3 separate regions of the Homo sapiens genome follow, and regions 1 and 3 are each linked to region 2. The links come from fine-mapping of genetic effects on gene expression. A gene starts in region 2. Each other region holds a variant in brackets. All regions are shown on one strand. Distances are from middle to middle.

Region 1 (7,217 bases), 47 kb after region 2:
TAAAGCATTGATTAGCAGCCTTGTGAAGCTGAAATATCTGGTTTGGAGCCCATTTGACAAGATGGGGAGATCATGAGCCGCAGAAAAAAGTGCATGGGCTCTGGGGTATCAGAGCCTTGGTTTTAAATCCTGCTTATCAGCTGTGCACCTCTAGGCAATAATGCAATCACTAGTATTTATTGAGGGCTTACTATGTGCCAATACCAAGCTAAATGCTCCACATTTCTGATGCTTCTAGTTCTTATATACACTCTGTGAGGTGAGAAATCCCATTTATTGGTAAGAAAACTGAGATTCAGGGAAGAGAAATCACTTGCCCAAAGCCACACAGCTCATAAGTGTCCGGGGTTAGGTATGAACCCTGCATGTGATCACTGCCTCCAAGATCTTGCAAACTTGCAAACTCCTCAGAATATGTTTGTTCTTCCATAGACTGGAAAAATACTCAGCAAGATTGTTATGGGGCTTGTTTAAAGTGCCACTTAAGTTGTCTGCACAGCGGAGGCTCAGTGGATATATTTGTGTCTGTCTTCACACCAGACTGCTGTGGCTTCAGAGCCTGCATCTCATTCATGGTTCCCATAGGGCCCAGAGAATATCCAGCAAGAATGATGCTTCTTTCTCTGAGCCTCAGTCTCTCTATTTCTTAACACAAAAGGAATAACACCTGCCTGGAAAAGTCCCAAGGAAGACTAAATAACAAGAAAGAATAAAAGTTCTTGGCACATAGCAGGTACTCTGTGTGGGTCTTCTCCTGTTTTCTCTGTGCTCACACTTCCTAAAACAGTATTTTGTGGGTCCTGCCCTGGTAGTGGAGTTGAGTCCCGACCTGGTAGTGGATTGAGCCATCCATGTACCTCCTCTGTGTCTTCCTTTACTCATGCCCGACTCCAGCTGTCAGCTAGGGATGTGCTGGGAGAGGGGAGTGGTTAGAATGAAGAGTCCAGCACTTGACCTGGGAAGAGTCAGTTGACCTAGGTTCAAGGGGCTCCATCCCTTCCTGGCTGCATAACCTTGGCTGAATAACAGCCTTTCTGAACTTCTGCTTCCTTCTCTGTAAAATGGGAATAAGAACAACAGATCTTATTTCTGGCTGGGTCCACTCAACCCTCTGGTTCTTAGACCTGGATCCAATTGCTGCTTTTTTTTTTTTTTTTTTCCCTACAGGTGTTTCTAGCTGTGTACAGGGACTGATTGGCTGAGGACTCACATTGGAGAGCTGCAGACAACATAACGGTGAATGGTGAGGAAGTCTTGTGGTCTGAACTCCAAAGGGCACCAGTGACCACTGACAGATTGGGTGCACAGGGGGATCACAACAAGGCTGTCCACTTGGTTTTAGAAGCATGTTGGAATCAAGTTCACAGCACCATGTACCTCTTCTTCATTGCACTTAGCATTATTGCAATGTTCCCATTATTTGAGGGACTTTTTGATGAACAATTGTCTCCCCCACTAGGCTCTAGAGGAAGACAGGGCCCCAAGCAGACAGAAAACATGGTTGTCAAAAGGATAGACTCTGAAGCTTGGATTCAAATCACAGGTCTGCCTTTTCCTAGCTGTAGGACTTCAGGCAAATGACATAAGCTCTCTGTGACTCAGTTTCCTCATTTGTAAGTTGAGGCTCATAACCTACCTACCTCATTGAGTTACTGTGAAGATTAAGAGAGTGTAGAATGCAATAGTGCCTGGCATGTAGGAGGTACCAGAGAGGCATTTGTTCAATAAATAAAATAGCAAAGAAGGAAATGGTTAAATCACAAAACTGGACTTGCTCAGAGTCAGGGGGAACATTGTTGGTCTTGCTGGTATTGGTCAACCTCTTAAAGCCAACTCTAGGGTTCCTCTAATGGTCCCTGTCTTCTCTTGCAGAGAATGGAGGATGAAGATTACAACACTTCCATCAGTTACGGTGATGAATACCCTGATTATTTAGACTCCATTGTGGTTTTGGAGGACTTATCCCCCTTGGAAGCCAGGGTGACCAGGATCTTCCTGGTGGTGGTCTACAGCATCGTCTGCTTCCTCGGGATTCTGGGCAATGGTCTGGTGATCATCATTGCCACCTTCAAGATGAAGAAGACAGTGAACATGGTCTGGTTCCTCAACCTGGCAGTGGCAGATTTCCTGTTCAACGTCTTCCTCCCAATCCATATCACCTATGCCGCCATGGACTACCACTGGGTTTTCGGGACAGCCATGTGCAAGATCAGCAACTTCCTTCTCATCCACAACATGTTCACCAGCGTCTTCCTGCTGACCATCATCAGCTCTGACCGCTGCATCTCTGTGCTCCTCCCTGTCTGGTCCCAGAACCACCGCAGCGTTCGCCTGGCTTACATGGCCTGCATGGTCATCTGGGTCCTGGCTTTCTTCTTGAGTTCCCCATCTCTCGTCTTCCGGGACACAGCCAACCTGCATGGGAAAATATCCTGCTTCAACAACTTCAGCCTGTCCACACCTGGGTCTTCCTCGTGGCCCACTCACTCCCAAATGGACCCTGTGGGGTATAGCCGGCACATGGTGGTGACTGTCACCCGCTTCCTCTGTGGCTTCCTGGTCCCAGTCCTCATCATCACAGCTTGCTACCTCACCATCGTGTGCAAACTGCAGCGCAACCGCCTGGCCAAGACCAAGAAGCCCTTCAAGATTATTGTGACCATCATCATTACCTTCTTCCTCTGCTGGTGCCCCTACCACACACTCAACCTCCTAGAGCTCCACCACACTGCCATGCCTGGCTCTGTCTTCAGCCTGGGTTTGCCCCTGGCCACTGCCCTTGCCATTGCCAACAGCTGCATGAACCCCATTCTGTATGTTTTCATGGGTCAGGACTTCAAGAAGTTCAAGGTGGCCCTCTTCTCTCGCCTGGTCAATGCTCTAAGTGAAGATACAGGCCACTCTTCCTACCCCAGCCATAGAAGCTTTACCAAGATGTCATCAATGAATGAGAGGACTTCTATGAATGAGAGGGAGACCGGCATGCTTTGATCCTCACTGTGGAACCCCTCAATGGACTCTCTCAACCCAGGGACACCCAAGGATATGTCTTCTGAAGATCAAGGCAAGAACCTCTTTAGCATCCACCAATTTTCACTGCATTTTGCATGGGATGAACAGTGTTTTATGCTGGGAATCTAGGGCCTGGAACCCCTTTCTTCTAGTGGACAGAACATGCTGTGTTCCATACAGCCTTGGACTAGCAATTTATGCTTCTTGGGAGGCCAGCCTTGACTGACTCAAAGCAAAAAAGGAAGAATTCTCAAAAGCATTGCCATGAACTGGGATTGGCATAGGGCGGTGGGATTAAGCTGCCTATTGTGTGTGCCCCAGAAATGACACTCTCCAAGGTCCATTCCTGGTGTGAGCAGTGAGGGGGTCAGAGCAAACCCAGTGTGATGCAGATCACACTTGGCCCTTGTATATATATTATCAGTAGCTGGCCAGAAAACCCTACCTTCAAGTCACTGCTCTGTGTTAAAGTATGTGGAAATGCATAGGTGATCTGGGAGAGGAAGGTGACATATCAGCCCATGAACTCCATAGGCCATGAATTTGGCTTTCGGATCAGCTAGGAAGACAGAGAACTGGTCCTGAGAGGTCCTGTGGGCTCTTTGCAAGGGCAAGACAAGTGAGGGATGCAACGAGGACTTGAGATTTGGCAAAGAAATGAGAAAGGAGAAAAGAACCTTTAAAGGATGCAGGCATGGAGCAGCTCACCCTAGAACATCGCAGGCTGATGGTGCTTTAGGCTGGAGCTATTTGGGGCGTCAGGGTGGTGCCAGCCCCTGATCTCACCTTGCCCCTCTTACCTGGGGGTGGGGTTGTGGCAGGCATCTTCACCAGCAGCCCTCACCCCATCACAGGGATTTTTTTCTGCCTTTCCTAATCCACTCAGCTCTGGCTGGAGGTGCTTAGAATAAAACACTGGTGGTGGGGCTTCTCATTCTGGTTAATTTCCTCAACGCCTTTGGAGAC[A/G]GGTCCAAAATGCAGCTTTGGGAAGCAACTCCGGAGAGTCCCCTGGGAAGAAGAGTATGTCCGAGGACTCAGTCACTTGAGACAGAGTCTGGAGCTGGACTCCTTGAACTGTGTTTCTGAGCTGCAGACACCAAATACCTCCTGGATACAGGTGCCTGGCATGGCTTTTCTCATCTAATACTGACACGTCCCTGTGGCCACAGAGTGTCATAGCCCCATTTACAAATGACATAGCTGAGGCCCAGATGGGGAAAGTAACTTGCCCAGCATCACACAGCTAATCAGTGGCAGAGTTAAGATCTGAACCTGGCTCCGTCTGGCTCCAGAAACTCTGTTCTTCTATTTGGAATTTATCTGTGGAGATTATTCTAGTATATTGATAGCCTACATTTATTTAGCACTTTTTATATTATGCACTTTACATATGTTTTCTCATTTAATCATTACAGCAACCCTGAGTTAGGTATGGTTATAACTTCCCTTTTACATAGGAGGAATCTGAGGCTTAGAGAGGTTAAGTAACTTGCCCAAAGGTACCCAGCTAGTCTCTGCCGGAGCTTGGATTTGAACTTCAGTTTGCCTGGCTCAAATGAGGCTGCAGAGTTGGGAAGGACTTAAAAAGTTTGGAGATTTTTGCCATAAATATTGATTTTTCTGCAAATGAGGATGAACATCTTAATGGCCTTTAAGAAACTTTGCAAATAGTTTTCAAAAATGATGCAACATGGCAGAGAAAATGCACTTGGCTTCCAGCTCCCTCAACAGCCATTAACAGCCTCCTACCGTGGCTCCCACCTCCTATGTCTCCAGAGATCAAGGCAATGGGGAGGGAAAGCTGGCAGGAGGCAGTCCCTTGTGGGCCTGAGGCCCTTTGGCTCCTAAGTGTCCACATTCTGTTCTCTTCCAAGTCCCTTCATTGTTAAGCTGATTCTCCAACAAGATGCAATGAACAGATGCAATGTCTACCCCGCGCTGGGCGAGTTCCCGAGGCCATGGGCTGTTTGGAATCACACTTCATTAAGAGACAAACTGTTCCTTCCCTTATTGTGCCTTAATGCTTATGACAAGGCAGCTCTGAATTGATCCCAAGCTGGAGCCTCTGAATGCTTTAAAGAGTTTGAATATAGACGGTTTGAGAGCAAAAAGGGAGCTTTAAATATTGCTCAGTGGCCCCCATCTCCCCTCTTCCCACATTTACTGAGGCACGAGATGGGATGGGACCTGTCCCGGGTCACAGCAGCAGTCGTCAGCGCCTTGGCCCTCCTGGCTTGTAGGATGCTGCTTTTCCTGGGCTTCTGGCAGTCCAGGCCAGGATGGGGGAGCCAGGAATTCATGTTGTCATTGGAAAAGCTGATAAACAGGAGCACAATTCAAACCGGCTGTTTTCCTCCTTAGAGTCTGGCCTCCCTCTTTCTGGCTGCTCTGTGGGTCTTCCTGTTCTGACTTAGGTTCCTGTCAAGTACTTAAATGCAGCCTTAACATCCCATACAGTCTTGTCCCCACAGCTTCATGTGAACATCTCCATGGGTCATGCATATATCGTCCCTGCAGTGTGCAAAGTGTGCTCACCTGCACTGCTGCACAGGCAACCAACATACTTAGTGCCCAGAGCCTTCTCTCTGGGCCCAGGACTCAGTGATGGGGCCTTACTTAGCCCTGCCTCCTGGGTGGGGTGGGGGAGCTGAGGGATCGTGAGGACAAGAGGTAGAGGGAAAAGAAAAGAAGATGGTGTTTGAGGATAGGGGAGGGACAGGAGAGGGGACAGAAAGGTCCCAGAGCATGATGATGAAGGAAAGGGATCTGGCATTCATGAAGCACCTACGATGGTTCAGGCACAAACACTGAAACCTCAAATTGGCCCTGGCAGAAGGGGACCATCATAGCAAGGTGGGGGGGGGGTGCAGAAAGTGAGTTTCTGTTTCAAGAACAGACTTCACTAGTTCAGAGTTGCACAGCTAGTGAGGTATGGAGCTGGGCTTTGAATCAGGTCAGCTGCCTGAATGCCCAACTTCTTCAGCCCTTGGAAGGAGAGGGTGGGGAGAAGAAGAAGGAAAAGACAAGGAAGAAAGAAAGAAGAGAGAAGGGGAGAGGAATGGAAGTCCAAAGAGTGGGAGGAATTTGATTTCAGAACCATCTCCAGCTGACCCTTGAGCCAGCAAGGACAGGGAGAAGGGAAGAGCAAGAACACGAAGGGCCTCAAGCACCGGGATGCCTTTGCCAGCCTTAGATAATTCCCAGAGCGCACAGAGCCCTGCAGGTTCCTGGGTCCTTCTCCAGAGAAGAGGCACAGAGATTCTGGCAGCAAGGTTCAGAAGGGGTGAGGAAACTGGGCACTGACAAAGGGAGGGGATTGGCTCAAATTCGACCCCAGAGTCAGCTCTGGTGGGGTTGGGAGCCTGGATGGGTGGGAGAAGATAGAATCCAATCGTGAAAACCATAAGGGACCTTCAAACTCATCTTGCCCAGATGTCTCCCATTTCACAGATGAGGGAACTGAGGTTTTGAGAGCTTCCCCTGAGGACTCTGCAAAACGAGGTGGTGTCTGGTTTGGATGAAAGTGGTCGGTGATTCCTCAACTCCTGCCCTGCCTCCCTCTCTCGTTCCTCCCTAACATGTTATGCTCTTGTTGGGGCTGGGATGCCCTAGGCCCAAGGTTACCAAATCCTGGGTTTGGAAAATTGCTGCTGGGGGTGGTATCTAGGACCAGAGAGGAATCTACTATTTCTACTGTGAAATAATTCAGCAGGGGGTCTTCTTACTTCTTCCCTTTGAGGACAAAGTTTCTCTCGAATAAAGAGACTGAAGCAAGAGTGTGTGGCTCAGTTCTGGGGGTTCCTGCCATCACCTCCCTTTTGCCTTCCTCACTTACTTCACAGAACAGCAGCTGAGGCTCAGAGAGGTGAGGCGGCCAGTGCAAAGTCACAGAGCTATGTTGTGGGCAGCAGGAGAAGCCCTGAAGTCCCCAACCTGCCATTCTCAAACCTTCGAGCTCCAAGAAATTTGCATTTTGAAAAAAATTCTTTTCACTTATTTTGCTTTTCTAGCAACTGAGGATGTGAAAGAGGTAGTTACTCACCCAAGATAATATAGTAAACCCTAGCAGATAAGGGACATAAAGCCAGGCCTCCTCATGGTCAGGTCTATACTCTTTGGCACTGCATCAGGTGGCCCAAGGACAGATGCTCCTGTGACACATTCATCCATTCACCTTTTCACCAACCCATTCACCCTAACATCCA
Region 2 (7,217 bases):
TCCCTCCTCCTCTCCTCTTCCCTCTTTTTCCTCTTTTCATCTCCCTCCTCCCTTTCCCTCCTCCTCCTTACCCCCTCCCCCTCTTCTCCTCCTCCCTCTCCCCTCTCCTCCCCTTGACCCCTCCTCTTCCCTCCTCCTCCTCTCTTCCTCCTTCCTCCTCCTCTTTTCATCTCCTTCCTCCCTTTCCCTCCTCCTCCTTACTCCCTCCTCCTCGTCTCCTCCTCCCCCACCCTCTCCTCCTCCCCTTTCTTTCTCTTCCCTCCTCCTCCGCTCCTCTTCCCTCCTCCTCTTTTCATATCCCTCCTCCCTTTCCCTCCTCCTCCTCCCCCTCCCCTCTCCTCTACTTGGCCCCTCCTTTTTCCTCCTCCTCCTCTCCTCTTTCCCTCCTCCTCCTCTCCTTTTTCCCTCCTCCTCTTTTCCTCTCCCTCCTCCCTTTCCCTCTTCCTCCTCTTCCTCTTCCACTGTCCACAGCAGATGAGGAAACTGAGACTCCAAAGGTGAAAGGCCTTGCCCAAGTCACACAGCTTACAGTGACAGCGACAGGAATTCAAACCAGGTCCGTCTGCTATCAAAGCCTCTGTTCTTAGCCACTATTCTGTGCATTGGCAAGGTGACTTGTTCCAGGGCCCATTTCAATGGATTCCTAATTGAAATGCCTATGTCAGTGGATCTCAAACTTGAGCAAGCATCAGAATCCCCTGGAGGGCTTCTTAAAACCCAGATGGCTTCCTGGAGTCTCTGATTGCCAAGGTCTGCAGTGAGGCCCAAGGGTTTGTGTTTCTAACAAACTTCTGGGTGAGGCTGCTGGGGTTGGTATGGAAACTAGACTTTAGGAACCTCTGGTCTCTATTAGATGGTGATATACAAGATCCCTGCCACGTTATGGAAATATCCTCTCCTTTCACCAGGAGAACCTGGGGAATGACATGATTTGGCTTTGTGTCCCGACCCAAATCTCATCTTGAATTGGAATTCCATAATCCTCACGAGTCATGGGAGGGACCAGGTGGGAGGTAATTGAACATGGGGGTGGTTTTCCCCCCATCCTGTTCTCATGATAGTGAGTGAGTTCTCATGAAATCTGATGGTTTTATAAGAGGCTTCCCCCTTTGCCTGGCACTCATTGTCTCTCCTGCCACCCTGTGAAGAGGTACCTTCCATCATGATTGTAAGTTTCCTGAGGCCTCCCCTGCTATGCGAAAATGTGAGTCAATTAAACCTTTTTTCTTTATAAATTACCCAGTCTTGGGTATTTCTTCACAGCAGTGTGAGAACGGACCAATACAATTACTAACTTCTGGGTGACCTTGGGTGAGTCCCTTGCCTCCTCTGGGTTCAGTGTTCTCATCTGTACAGTAAGTGTTTCGATATGATGTTTTGTTCCCTAGATAAGCCCAAAGAAGAAGAGAGCAAGGAAGACAGTTGGGTAGACTGGGCCTGACTTCTGACTATAGAGACCTGTGTGACCTCAGGCAAGAGACTCAATCTCTCTGGGCTTCAAGTTATCTGTGAAATGGAAGAATGAAATTAGATGGTTTCTAAGTGTAAAGCTCACTGAATTAAAGGATTGAGGATGGTGGGGAGAGGTCGGTGGGGTTCTAAGGCTGATCAGACGATGAGGACATAGTCCTCCACCTGCCCAAGACTTTGAGGCCCAAAACACAGGTTTCTCTCCTTCTCTCCCTCCCTCCCCATCTCCCTCTCCCTTCACCTTCCCCTCCTCCCCATTACCTTCCTCCCTGCCCTCCCTTTTCTTCCTTTCTTTCTTCTCCTCCCTTCCCCTCTCTTCCCCTCCCCTGCCCTTCCCTTTTCTTTTTCTTTCTAAAAATATTATTTTAGGCAGTCGTAGGCAGTCTTGGCTTTGGAATCAGACAGACTCAGATCCAGCCATGGCTCGGTCAGCATGAGCTTGGCGCCCTGGGCAAAACGACTTCTGCTCTGTGGCCCTAGCATCCTCATGTGTAGAATGGGCAAGTGATGCCCCCCCGACGTGGGTGGTGGTTCACACGGCTTACTCCATGGAAGCACTTGGCACAGGGGCCCACATGGGCACTTCTGTTATTTCTTCAGTCTGGAGGCCAAGGGTGGGCCTCCGAGCCAGACAACATAGTTGGAATCCCAGCTCTGTCAGCTGCTGGCGGTGTGGTCTTGAGCAAGTGACTTAATCTCTCTGTACCCCAGTTTCCTTATTGGTAAGACTGGAGTAGTAATAATTCCTGTTATCTAGGGTTGCCGTGAAGAGTAAGTACGCATCGCCTAGCACGCTGCCTGGCTGTCGGTTGTTTTGATTATTCCACTAATGATGGTGACCACACAGCCGATGAACCAGGCACTTAGCGCCTGGTTAGGGCAGGGAACAGAATACAGTTCTTTCCCTACAGAGTTCCTGGTGCAAGGAGTTCTCGGTGCAAGGAGAGAGACATCTTAACAGGCAAGGACAGCACTGCATCAGTGAGGTGATGGGGTGACCCTGAGGGGCACAGCAGCCCCCGAGGGTTGGGGAAGGCTTCCCTGGGAGGTGACCTTCAACCTGAGACCTGAAGAGGCAGTAGGAGACCATCGGGCCACGAATTAGGGCAGGAATAGCATCCAGGTGGGAGGAACAGCGTTGCAAAGGCCCAGGGTGAGAGGCAGCCAATCTCTCGGTCAGTGTGGAGCTTGAGCCCCTCACCGGGAGCAGAGGCGCTTGCACTTCCCCCAGCAGCCGGGTGCTCAGATGTGCTCCCTGTTTGCGCTCAGTGGGCACGGCTCCCCGGCTGCAAGAGGCTGCCAGAGGGGCGGGTCGTCCCCAGCGGGCCCCCGCCGCCACCCACAAGCCCAGTCCCCGGCTGGTAGGGGCACCCTCCCCTCGCAGCCCCCTCTCCACGCAGCTAGCCGCCCCCGCCCTAGGTCAGCCCAGTTTCCTGCCCCTCCCTCCTGCTCTCCTCCCTCCAGCTGTTTCTCTGGCTGAGTTCTGTCCCAGTCCCATTCAGGGAAGCAGCCCCGGCGGCCAGCAGGGAGCTCAGGACAGAGCAGGCTCCCTGGGAAGCCTCCGGGTGATAGGGGTGTTCCAGCTGCGGCGCTCTGGGGGTTCAGAGGGGGATCTTGAATGAACAAATGAATGAACTGCTTTCTGGGCAAACAGCCACAGCCAGAGGAGCCTGTGATTGGCAGAAAGAAGCCAGGGTGTGCAAGTCTCCCCAACAGCCTCGAGTGGCCTGCAGTCACAGGGAACCCTCAGGAAGACCTTCCGGGCAGAGACCAGAGGGAAGGTATCATCACACACTTGCCTTGGGTGTCTTCTGAGGGGGGCCAGGGAAGGGGAATGAATACTAACAGAGAGAAAAGTTTGTTTCTTTTTATAATTTCATATTTGTTAAAAGGAAGAGTTTTGTTATTATTTTCAGATGTCAAAAGTAATGCATGTTCATTGTTTAAAGAAATAGCAAGGATACACAACTAAATATATGAATGTGGATTTCCACATCTAGTTTGGTAACCTGCTTAACCACAGATTGTGAACTTTTTTCCATATCACCTATATTCTTCCAATATACATTTTTCATGGCTGCATAGAAAGGCTATCTTAAGATTATTTGACTTTTCCATAATAGATTTGCTTCTTTTTTTTTATTAGAACAGTGCTGCAATGAATATTTAGTATGACATCTTTGTGTGTGTGTCTTATGAATACCTTTTAGAAATTGCTAGATTTAAGGTTTGCCTATTTTTAAGACTTCTGAGCTTTTGGTCACACTGCACCCTGGAAGGCCGTGGCAGCTTGACCTCTCTACGATGTTATACCAGGGCACAGTATTCTCACATACTAAACCCACCTTGTTGCTACCCATCCCTTAAACTTTCCCTGATGTGAAGTCGAGAATAATATCTAGATGCTTCAATAGGCATTTCATTTCTTTGTTAGTGTTGATTCTCTTTTATAAACTTATTTTTCACATTTCTAGTCTGACTCTCCTGTTCAAGTCTGTTCCCATTTTTTTCTCCTCTGGGGGCATGTTTATCTTTTTCCAATTGATATCTAAGGGTTCTTTGTATATAAAGGACACAAAACCTTTGCCGGCACTCTCTGTTGAAAATATTCCACTCCCTCCTCTGTCTTCAGAATAGCCCATTTTAAATGGGCAAGCCAGCTTTGGCAAAATTATAAGCATTACAACATCAGGGAACTACTACTTGATATAAGCCCAATCACTCAGACCTGTGCGGTTCAGAGATGCCAGATCACTGGTCTGAGGTCACACGCCTGAACGTCCAGGTTCTGAGTCTTTCTTTTTCTATTAGGGAAAGCCCTCAACTTCCCTTTTGCATCCCCTACCTCCTTCTCAAGACCAATCTTCTCTGTGGTTCTTGCTGTATCTCCTGCCCCTTCCAAACTGGTTTGAAGGTAAGATTCCTCTAAATGCCTTGGCTGCTGAGGTGAGTGTGACTGGGTCATTCAGGCCTCTGGTGCAGGAGGAGGCAGCTTGGCCTTTTCTTTAACCTAAACCAGTGGCACTCAAATGATGATGTGTCATACACTTGGGAGGTCCACAGGAGAGTTATCTCTTGATGCACAGGGGCCTTCTTTGGACTCCCCCAAAACTTCAGGGAACAGATAACCTTAACTTTGGGCAAGTCATGCCTTTCTCTGGCTTGACTTGTTCTGAGAAGTCCCCTACCCGCACTGGGTCAGGGCTTGTCTGCTAGGCTCTCCCAGGGCCTATCCCTCCCTTATCACGGCTCCTACCACACCGTGTTCTAATGACCAGTCATCTTGTCTGTCTCTCCTTCTAGCCGGGAGGCCCCTAGAGGCCAGATCTGGGATATTACTTTTTTTCTGCATCCTCAGTCCCCTGCACAAGAACTAGCATATATTAGGGTCATTGTTCATGGAATAAATAAAGTAACCAGGTGTCAGTTTCACCATCTGTAAAATGGGGTGGGGGAAGTTGGACTGAAGTCCCATCTCTTAGATGTTTACCTAATAACTCCTCTCAGTTTGCAAACCACTTTCTCGAGATGATTTTATCAAATCCTCACCATGGCCACATGATGAAGGTACTATTAACATGCCCATTTTACAGATTAGGAAACAGAAGCCTGGAGAGTTCTGATGCTAGACCTCCCCACAAAAGGGAGTAGAACATTGTGCAAGAAGGGGCACCTTGGTCTTAGGCAAGGTACTCCCACTCTCTGGCCACAATAATATCATCTGTAAATAAGGATGATATTATTTGATATTATTATCACTCTGGGGGTGGGCTTGAATTGGCCTGCCACCTGCCAACTGAGTGACATGGAATCAGTTATTCCTCATCTTTGTGCCTGAGTTTCCTCATCTATAAAATGGGAATATGATCAGTAACTGCCTCATAAGATTATTCTAAAGAGTAAATGAGATCATACAAGTAAAGCTGTAAGCAGAGGATTTGTTGTAAAATAAGGTCTCTATAAACATTAGCTATTGTTCTGATGATCATTTCTATTCCACTGTGCCTGTCTATACCTGTGACACTCATCTGAGCCAAATGGAAATTATTATTGATTTCTTTAGTGGATTATTAATGCTCTTATTCCCACTGATGTACAAGAAAACCAAAAGCTTATTTCATTCTCTTTGAGCTACACCACATGGGTGCAGACATTACCGCCAGTTGCGAGGCTATGAAGTAGACTCAGAGCTTCTCAAAGTGCAATCTCTAGACCACCTGCATTAGAATAATTGTGAGTGTTTCTTTTTTTTTTTTTTCCTGGAGATGGAGTCTCGCTCTGTCGCCCAGGCTGGAGTACAGTGGCGCAATCTTGGCTCACTGCAAGCTCTGCCTCCCGGGTTCACGCCATTCTCCTGCCTCAGCCTCCCAAGTAGCTGCGACTACAGGCACCCACCACCCCGCCCGGCTAATTTTTTGTATTTTTAGTAGAGACGGGGTTTCACCGTATTAGCCAGGATGGTCTCAATCTCCTGACCTTGTGATCCACCCACCTCGGCCTCCAAAAGTGCTGGGATTACAGGCGTGAGCCACTGCGCCCGGCCAATTGTGAGTGTTTCTTAAAGCTTCAGTTTGGAAATCAGAATCTCTGTGGATGAGGCTTCAGTGTCTGCATGTTGAACCAGCACCCCAGGTCATTCAGATGCACCCCAAAACTTGAGAACTACCAACCTAGAGTGCTTAAAAGTCTTTCCTTTTTGCCCTTTGTTCACACTGGGGTCTTGGGTTCTTTGCTGCACAATAAGGTTTCTTTTTTCCCTTCTAAGCAAATATTCATGTACTTCTGTGAATCCACATGTTCCGTGTCAGCAGTTGAGGCCAGAAGGTTTGGCAGAGAAGAAGCGAAACTTTGTCTTATAGTACCACAGAAAGTCAGATCGTGTTAGCAATCCCCCAGCATGGAGGCTTTGAAATTATTTTCAGTTGCAGAATCCTTTCCACAAATGAAAGTCTTATGGGGAAGTGTAATTTGAAAACAGATAAAGGTGGTGTTATTCTTGTTGAAACAGAGGTGGAAGACTCCAGGCTGCCACTAAATCTCACTCTTGTTGCTGAAGGGCCTCTAAGAATCTTTGTAGCTCCATGGGGCAGGCAGGAAACTGCAACTCCTCTACTCCAAGGAGTTAAGAGACCAAAGTTCTAGACATTTGTTGAGCTTACTGTGTGACCTTGGCAAGGCACTCTTACTCTTTGGCCACAATAATTTCATCTGTAAATAAGGAGGTCGAATGGTATATCAGCTAGGGTAGTAGCTGCAGTAACAAATAGGTCCCCAAAGGCATAAGGGCTGAAGCAAAGCAGAGCTTTATTATAAGGCAAGTATTTCTGAATGGAGGGTGGTCCTCTTCCTCATGGTACTTCAGTGACTCATCTGGTGGTCCCACTCTCTCCTCAGATATCCTCATTGTCTGCAGCCAGGTGCACAAGACAAAAGAAAGTATGGAGGTGGCATATTTGCTTATCTGCTTTGGCCTGGAAGCAGCAGACATGACTTCCACTCACATGAGAACTATCATGTGGCCAATCTAGTTGCAAAGGAGGCCAGGACATGGAGTTACAAGGATATGAGGTTCTTGGCAAAGAGCAGCTCTTTCCCAGCCACAGTCGTGTATTGTGGACAGGGAGAATGAATTTTTGTGGACAGCTACCTGTCTCTGTCACAAATGTGGTGACCTCTTGGGTTGCTTCCATTCTTTGATTCTAAGTCTACATTTCCATTAGTCAATCTTAGTTAACATGGTGATGTTG
Region 3 (7,217 bases), 22 kb before region 2:
ACACACCACACACACTCACACCACACACACATCACACACACACCACACACACACACCACACACACATCTCACACTGTGTACTCACACACACACCACCCATGTACACACACACACCACACCCCCCACACATCACAAACACACACCACACATATGCTCACACACACATCACACACACGGCACACACAGCACATACATGCACACACACACTCATACCACACACACCACACACATACACCACACAAACCACACACACCACACCACACACATGCACCACACACCTGTACATATGAACACAACACCCACACCCCCCCCACACATCACTCTCCAACACCACATACAAACATACCACACACGACACACACACCATACCACACACATGCACATGCACACACGCCACAGACACACCACACACACGTACACACACACCAAACCCCCCACACATCATACACACCACACATATCACACACACACGTCACACCACACCCACCACACCACACATATGCACACATGCACACCACACACACCACGCATACACACCACACACATGCCACACACACACGCCACACACACTACACACACCCACACACACGCCCCCATACACCACACACGTCACATACACACCACACACGCCACACACGCCACACATGCACACACACACCCCACACATGCCACACACACACACGCCCCCCCACACTCCACACACACACCATGCACACACACACTCTCCCAGCTCCTCCTCTGGAACAAGCTTGACCACGTCAGGTCTTCTCTTCCATGGTTTTTCCAAATCAGTTTGAGCCACGTTTTACTTTTGTGGCTCTTGTCAGAGAGGCCAGGCCCCATGAACTGCAGGGAGTGGGCCGTTCTGCCCATGTTGGGGGTGGCTACATGGTGCCACAGCCATCCGTGGCCCATCCTTGAAGGGTATGGATTTTGCTGGATGTCTGGGGTCTGGGGAAGTCAAGCAATTCGCTCGTGTGGCAGGATGTGATTTTCTGTCACTTTCACCATCTCACTCTTCCTCTTCCCCACCCCTTATGAGAAAGAAGGCTCTTTTACTAGAATATCATGTTAAAGTGATGCTTTGGGAGGTGGTTTTATTCATCAAACACTTATGTAATCCTTATTAGGCACCAGGTCTAAGGCCTTTAGATGTGTGATATCCCTTAACCCCCATGACAGCCCTATGAGCCTTATGACTCCCATTTTACAGATGTGGAAACAAAGGCCAAGATCATACAGCTAGTAAGTGACGGAGCCTGGATGAAACTCAGGCTGTCTGGTTCCACAGGAGTTGTGTTCTTACCCACCTCGCTCTGCTGCCTTTCCAGTGAGCTTGATCTTCCTAAGAGGAAAACTTGCTTGTCTTCTAGACCAGCCTTGCAGTTGGTCTTGGGCAAGAGAGGCTTCCCTGGGCAATGGAAGACAGAGGCCTGCTCTGATACTCCTCTGGCCTTGCCCTTCCCCAGGAAAGTGGTTATCCAGAGCTCACTTCCTCCTCCTTCTAGTGCATGTCCTGAGTACCTGGGAGCTGAGGATTCCCTGCCCAAGGGGCTTGCAGGGCTTCTTCCCTGGATCTTTTCTCCCAAGAGCAGTGCACTCAGGCCAAAGATGGCTAAAGAGTGACAGATTTTGGATCTGAGCACTGGGCTGTGTGTGTTCATCTGTGGGTGCAAGGCCCTTCTTAGTGTGCGATGAAGCTGGGGTGGGAAATTAAGAGGGGTGGGAAATAGATGGATGACCAGCTTTCTCTCTGCTGTCTTCCAGCGTGGAGCACTGAGAAATCTGAGTTCCTCATTAGATCCTAGGCTTCCAAGTTGTTGGGAAAGGTCTGTTTGTCAAAGTAGGAGGATAGAACATTTTCTGTTTAACGTTAGCAAGCTTGATTGATAATTTTAAGCATTTAGACATATGCTATGTGGACCCCCATTTATCCTCTTGCCCCCGGCCCCACAAATGTCAGGGTGGACTTGTGAAGTGGATGTGGGACTGAAAACCTATTGTCCCAGCAGCTGGGGATGCTGCAACTATCAGCCTCTGCAGGAGTCCCCTCTGATGTAGAAATCACTCTTGCTTAACTTTCTCAAAGCCATGTCCCTTCGGGAAACAGCCCACATTGATTACAGTGCAGGAGTAGTAAGGTCTGGTATCTTGTCCCACCTCTTCCTGGCTCTGTAGGATCATCTCAGCTCCAGCATTCTCTGTGGGGTTAACAGAAGCCTCCACTGAGGCTATGTCCCAGCCAGATTTCTCCCTCTGCCGATGCAGCATCCTTTCTGTCCCCATGCAGGTGTTGATTCCTTTGTGATGTGTCTTTGCAATGCCTTCACTAGGGGGTAAGTCTACTCCACCCCACTGGTGTTGGGCCTGGGGGCTATGAGGAACTCTATAGAGAATATATGCGGTAACAGACTGTAGCCTTGCCTGTTGGCTCCCCCGTTCTAGGGAAGAAACCTTGGCCAGGCAAAGATAGGACAATGATGCCAAATAAGTCATTCACTTTAGTGACATTACTGGGTCAAGACAGGGGGTCAGTTTTATGAGAAGCATTAAGCTGGGAGGAAGGGTTTGAAAAGTATTGGAAGATATAATGGAACACTGTGATTATTCACTTTCTTCTACACATCTATGGGGTGTGGCCTTGTGACTTGCTTGGCCAATGGAATGTGGGCAGAAGTGACGATGTGCCAGTTCCTCACCTGGGCTTTAAAAGTCTTCATGGGCTTATTCTCACCCCTCTTGAATTTCTGCCATCACCTTGAAAAGCACATGCCCTGGCTACCCAACTTGTCCAGGGAGAGTGAGTGGCACCTGGAGCAGATTGGGATCCAATCAATGGCTAATAGCCAAGCTTGGCCAAGCCCATCCAGGTTAGCTGATCACCCCCCAGCTCACAAATATGTGAGTGAGAATGAAGTATTATGGTTTTAAGCCACAGAATCTTAGGTGCTTTGCTAGACAGCATCAGTGGCAAAATCTGGACACAAAAGTACCTGTGCTTGTTTTGGGGAAAAATGATGGGTTTCCACTCTGTAATTCCTGAGTCAAATAGACATTGAAGAAAGAGGTTCCACAAGGATGTTTTCATTAGCAAGCCACTGGGGAATTCCAGGGAAGTGAGCTCCAGGCTGAGAAGCATAAAACTGGGAGGAAGAGCTTGAAAGGTATTAGAAAGCATAATGAGCCACTGTGATGATTCATTTCTCCTATGCATGTGGGTCAAGCCCAGTTGCTGGTTGGATGCCCTGATCTCAGCAGATGCTTCCACCAAAACCTCAGGGGCTTCCCACAGTCCCCAGGGAGGTGGTCTTGAAGTCTTAATGTGGTGTTGTATGTGTGGATGTTGGTGAGAAAGATGAATGCCCTGAATGCTTCAAATACAGGGACAGCTGCTGGCCTGGGGACCATGAGGAGCCCCACCATAAAGAATGTTCTGGGGTAACAGACTGCAGCCTCTTCTGCTGGCTCCTTTGATTTAGGGAAGAATCCTTAGCTGTGCAAAGGTGGGAAAATGACCCCCAAGTTAGTCACCCATTTTAGTGACATTACTGGTCCAAGACAGGGGATCAGTAATTGGCTTTCTGCTACTCACTAGCCATGTGATCTTGGGAGCAAGTCTGGCCTCAGTGTCCTCATCTGATCAATGGGCACAACAATGCCTCATACATTTATCTTGATGATGAATGAAAATAATTCAAGCTCAAATCTACCTCAGGGTGTTTGCCTTGGCAATTTCCTCTGGCTGGTACAGTCCATCTTGAGATTTTGATGGCTGATAATTGGATCCTTCAGATTCAGGGAGCCCAC[C/T]CTGCCTGCTCACACAGCTGCTTCCTGACTGCCATCATCACACCCCCCATTTTTTTTTTTTGAGGTGGAGTCTTGCTTGTTGCCCAGGCTGGAGTGCAGTGGCGTGATCATGGCTCACTGCAGCTTCCACCTCTGGGGCTCAAGCAATCCTCCCACCTCAGCCTCCTGAGTAGCTGAGACTACAGGTGTGCACCACCACGCCTGGCTAATTTTTGTATTTTTAGTAAAGTTGGGGCTTCACCATGTTGGCCAGGCTGGCCTCGAACTCCTGACCTCAAGTGATCCTTCTGTCTCAGCCTCCCAAAGTGCTGGGATTACAGGCGTGAGCCACCGTACCTGGCCGACGACCCCCTGTTTTATGCACCTTTGAGTACTTACCACTATCTGAAATGATCTTGTGGACTTCTATGTTCCTTGCTCCCAGGGATGACCTGTTGACAGCACATATAGCAAAGGGCCTGAAAAATAGTAGCTGCTCAGTTAGTCTTGTTTGAATGAATAAGCAACTGGAGAGGTGGATGCAGTGTCTGCTGCCAGTAGGCATGATGTGAATATACAAATATACATTCTCTTTCATTCTTTCATCTGAGGACTCCCAGAGAATCTGATGGGTTTGGGCTTAAATTAATTGGAAATAACTTTTCATTTTCCAGGTAATTCCTCCAGTCTCTACTTCAGAGGTTACACATTGGCGGCGTGCACTCCATATGTGGTTCTCCAATATATTCTGATGGATGGCATGGTGTTTCCAAACCATTTGAGACAACTTCTATAAATCAGGATATTTCATATTTAAAAGAATCTTACTTTCAGATATTTTCAGATAAAAAAAGGGAGATCCAGCAAAGCCAGGCCTGAATTTCTGCTTGGCAAGGAGGGGCTGGCACTGAGTAGCCACCCTCTGGGGTCAGGTGGACCAATCCCTGACTGGTCCACCATTGCTCCCATCGCTCCTTCAACGAACCCCTGTCCAGTCCACTGGTTCCCATGACCTGCCTGGTCTCTGCACGTGTTTGTGTCCCCTGATCTATTCTTTTCTGGTTCTGCCGAATGGGTCACAGCTGACTTTACTGTTCCCTCCTGCTGTTCGGCTACTCCCGCAAGAATTCATGGCCCCGAGCTCAGCTCCAGAACCCTCTTGCTTTCAACTCCCACCCCATCGCTTGCTCTTGGTATACGGATTTTAAAACATGCACAATTGATTTGCCAAGAATGGGATGATTAATTAGAAACGAAGACTCATTGTGGGAGAGCCTCGGAGGCGGTTTTGATCTCTATGCTTCTTGAATTTCCTTGCCTTTGTTCTGGCCCCAGATAGGGGACTCATTAGGCAGCGGGGGCTGCTGGGCACAGAGAGTTTGCTATTTTTGAAAACCTCTGACTCAGCACCCCCCTCCCCAGCCCTTCTCTTTCTTCTTGAGCTATGCCCCTTGCTCTGAATCTGAAGGTGTGTGCTGGGAGCTGACATGGGGATACAAGCCCACACCTGGCAGGCTGCGAGGGTGCATTTCCTTCTTTTCCTAAATTTAAGAAAAAATCATCTCCAGACAATGCTCAGCCTTGTCAGAGTAGTGGAGACATGGTGGGGAAAAGTAGCCTGGATCTGAGAGATTTCCTTTAGAATCTTGCCACCCAGGTGTGGTTCTCAGTCCAGCAGCATCTCAGGTATCCAGGGGAAGCTTGCTAGGAATGCAGACTCTTGGACTCCAACCCAGACCTACTGACACAGAATCTGCACTGAGCTCCCCAGGCAATTGGTGTGACCAGAGAAATTTTCATCTTTATCTTGGTTCTAGTGCATACTTTGAAAGTGGGTGCCATCTTCCACACTATTGTTAAACCACAGTGGGATCTGATTCTCACGAATCTCCACTTCACCCCCAGCCCAGTGCCTGGCACATAATAAGTGCTCAGTGTGTCTTTGTAGATTTGCATCCACCATATCCACCATAGAGGTCAGGTTCCTTATGTGGTTCTCAGCCTTGGCTGCACATTGGATTCCCTGGGGAGCTTTATACATTACTGACCCCTGGGCTCCACCCCAAGAGATTCTAACTAACTTGGTTTGGGTGTGACTTGGGCTTGGAGATTTTGAAAGCTCCCTAGGGAGTCAAAAGTGCAGCCAGGGTCAAGAACAACTGTTTTTGTATATTTTTAAAATGTTGGTGCATCTGATGAAAGTTCTGAGTGGTCACAATCCTTCTTTAAAATCCCATGGGGGTGAGGGTGATGCGGAAACCCACTCAACATCCCTACATTTTTCCTCAGTGTTGGGATCAGATAGCTGTTTTCTTACTGAAGAACGGATGCCATTACTGGATTGTATTTAGGGGTCAAGACATATGAAATGCATATCTTGGAATCCAAGAGTCACACTCCCAGGGCGAGATGCTCACCTTGTGGGCTGCTCGTGGGATGCGAGGCCACACCCACACACGGAAGCACCTGCCCTTTCGCATCCTTCTCCTCTCCCACTTTCCCTCGTTCATTCCTACTCTTTCTTCAGATCTCAACCTGATGCTCACTTCCTCCAGGAAGCCTCCCCTGACCACCCACCTCTGGGTAGGCAGGTTCCTTTGTTAAATGTATTCAAAGAATGGGGCTCTTTTCAGAGCCTAGTTGGCAGTTAGACACTCAGGCATGGAAGGCTGGGGTTGAAGTTGGGGACCCCACCCTGGACTGGAAACTTGCTAGGAGCAGTTGTCAGGCCTTTGTAGCCCTTCATGGTATTCCAATGTATCTAGCAGGGACCTAGTAAAAATTGCAATGAATGACTGAATGAGTGAATGAATGAATGAATCATCGAGGTTGTTGAGGGTGTTGGGGGAAGGGTTATTCCTTTCCACACAACCTCTATGTAGATGTGGTTTATCCAATTACCATGAGCTACTCAGCCAGCCCTGCAGCATGCAGTGAGGCATAGCTGTATTTCTGAGGCCTATAATTTTCCAGTAATTAGACTTTCAGGCACATATGTCTTGTGGCTCGAATATGATTCTGTTATACCTCTGTTGCTAAAGTAACTGCTACGTAAGCCTTCAAAAATTTGCTTTAATAATGATGGGCTATAGTGGATCTGTGCTATTTAGGTAACTTGCAATCTACCTTCAGGACAATATAATTACATGGCTGGGTTATTTTTAATTTCATGGGACAGCATTCCTCAAGCTTCAGCCATCCCAGTGCCACCGTTTTTATTTTTGCCCTGCTTGTATACCATTTCTATGGTGTCGTGAATTTAATATTGTCCTTTAAATCTACTCATTAAAAATGTCAGTGAATGTACTCATTAAAAATATCAGTAAATGTAGCTCAAAAGGGAAATTTACATGACCACAGTAAATAGAAAACCAATATCAATTTCCTCAAATAGAAAGTGACCATAAAATACCACCCCTACATAAACAATC

Evidence for each region. PIP is the estimated chance that this variant, and not a neighbour inherited with it, causes the effect. A credible set is the group of variants that fine-mapping cannot tell apart.
Region 1: its variant is the best candidate, but not a certain one, in a credible set for the expression of CMKLR1 in whole blood (INTERVAL, PIP 0.65).
Region 3: its variant is the best candidate, but not a certain one, in a credible set for the expression of CMKLR1 in cerebellum (GTEx, PIP 0.75).

What each region holds. Positions count from the first base shown.
Region 1 is chr12:108,287,615-108,294,831 of GRCh38, reverse strand. CMKLR1 (chemerin chemokine-like receptor 1) reads left to right here. Exons shown (of 4, transcript NM_001142343.2): 3 at 1,168-1,243; 4 at 1,873-6,786. The coding sequence starts at 1,241. The coding sequence ends at 2,991. Among named protein-coding and RNA genes, the nearest start is that of CMKLR1, 48 kb to the left of the region's middle. The variant A/G (reference allele first, on the strand shown) is at 3,979.
Region 2 is chr12:108,335,061-108,342,277 of GRCh38, reverse strand. CMKLR1 (chemerin chemokine-like receptor 1) reads left to right here and starts at 2,967. Exons shown (of 4, transcript NM_001142343.2): 1 at 2,967-3,251. RefSeq lists a silencer at 2,684-2,803 and an enhancer at 2,911-3,534.
Region 3 is chr12:108,356,668-108,363,884 of GRCh38, reverse strand. No RefSeq gene overlaps it. Among named protein-coding and RNA genes, the nearest start is that of CMKLR1, 21 kb to the right of the region's middle. The variant C/T (reference allele first, on the strand shown) is at 3,808.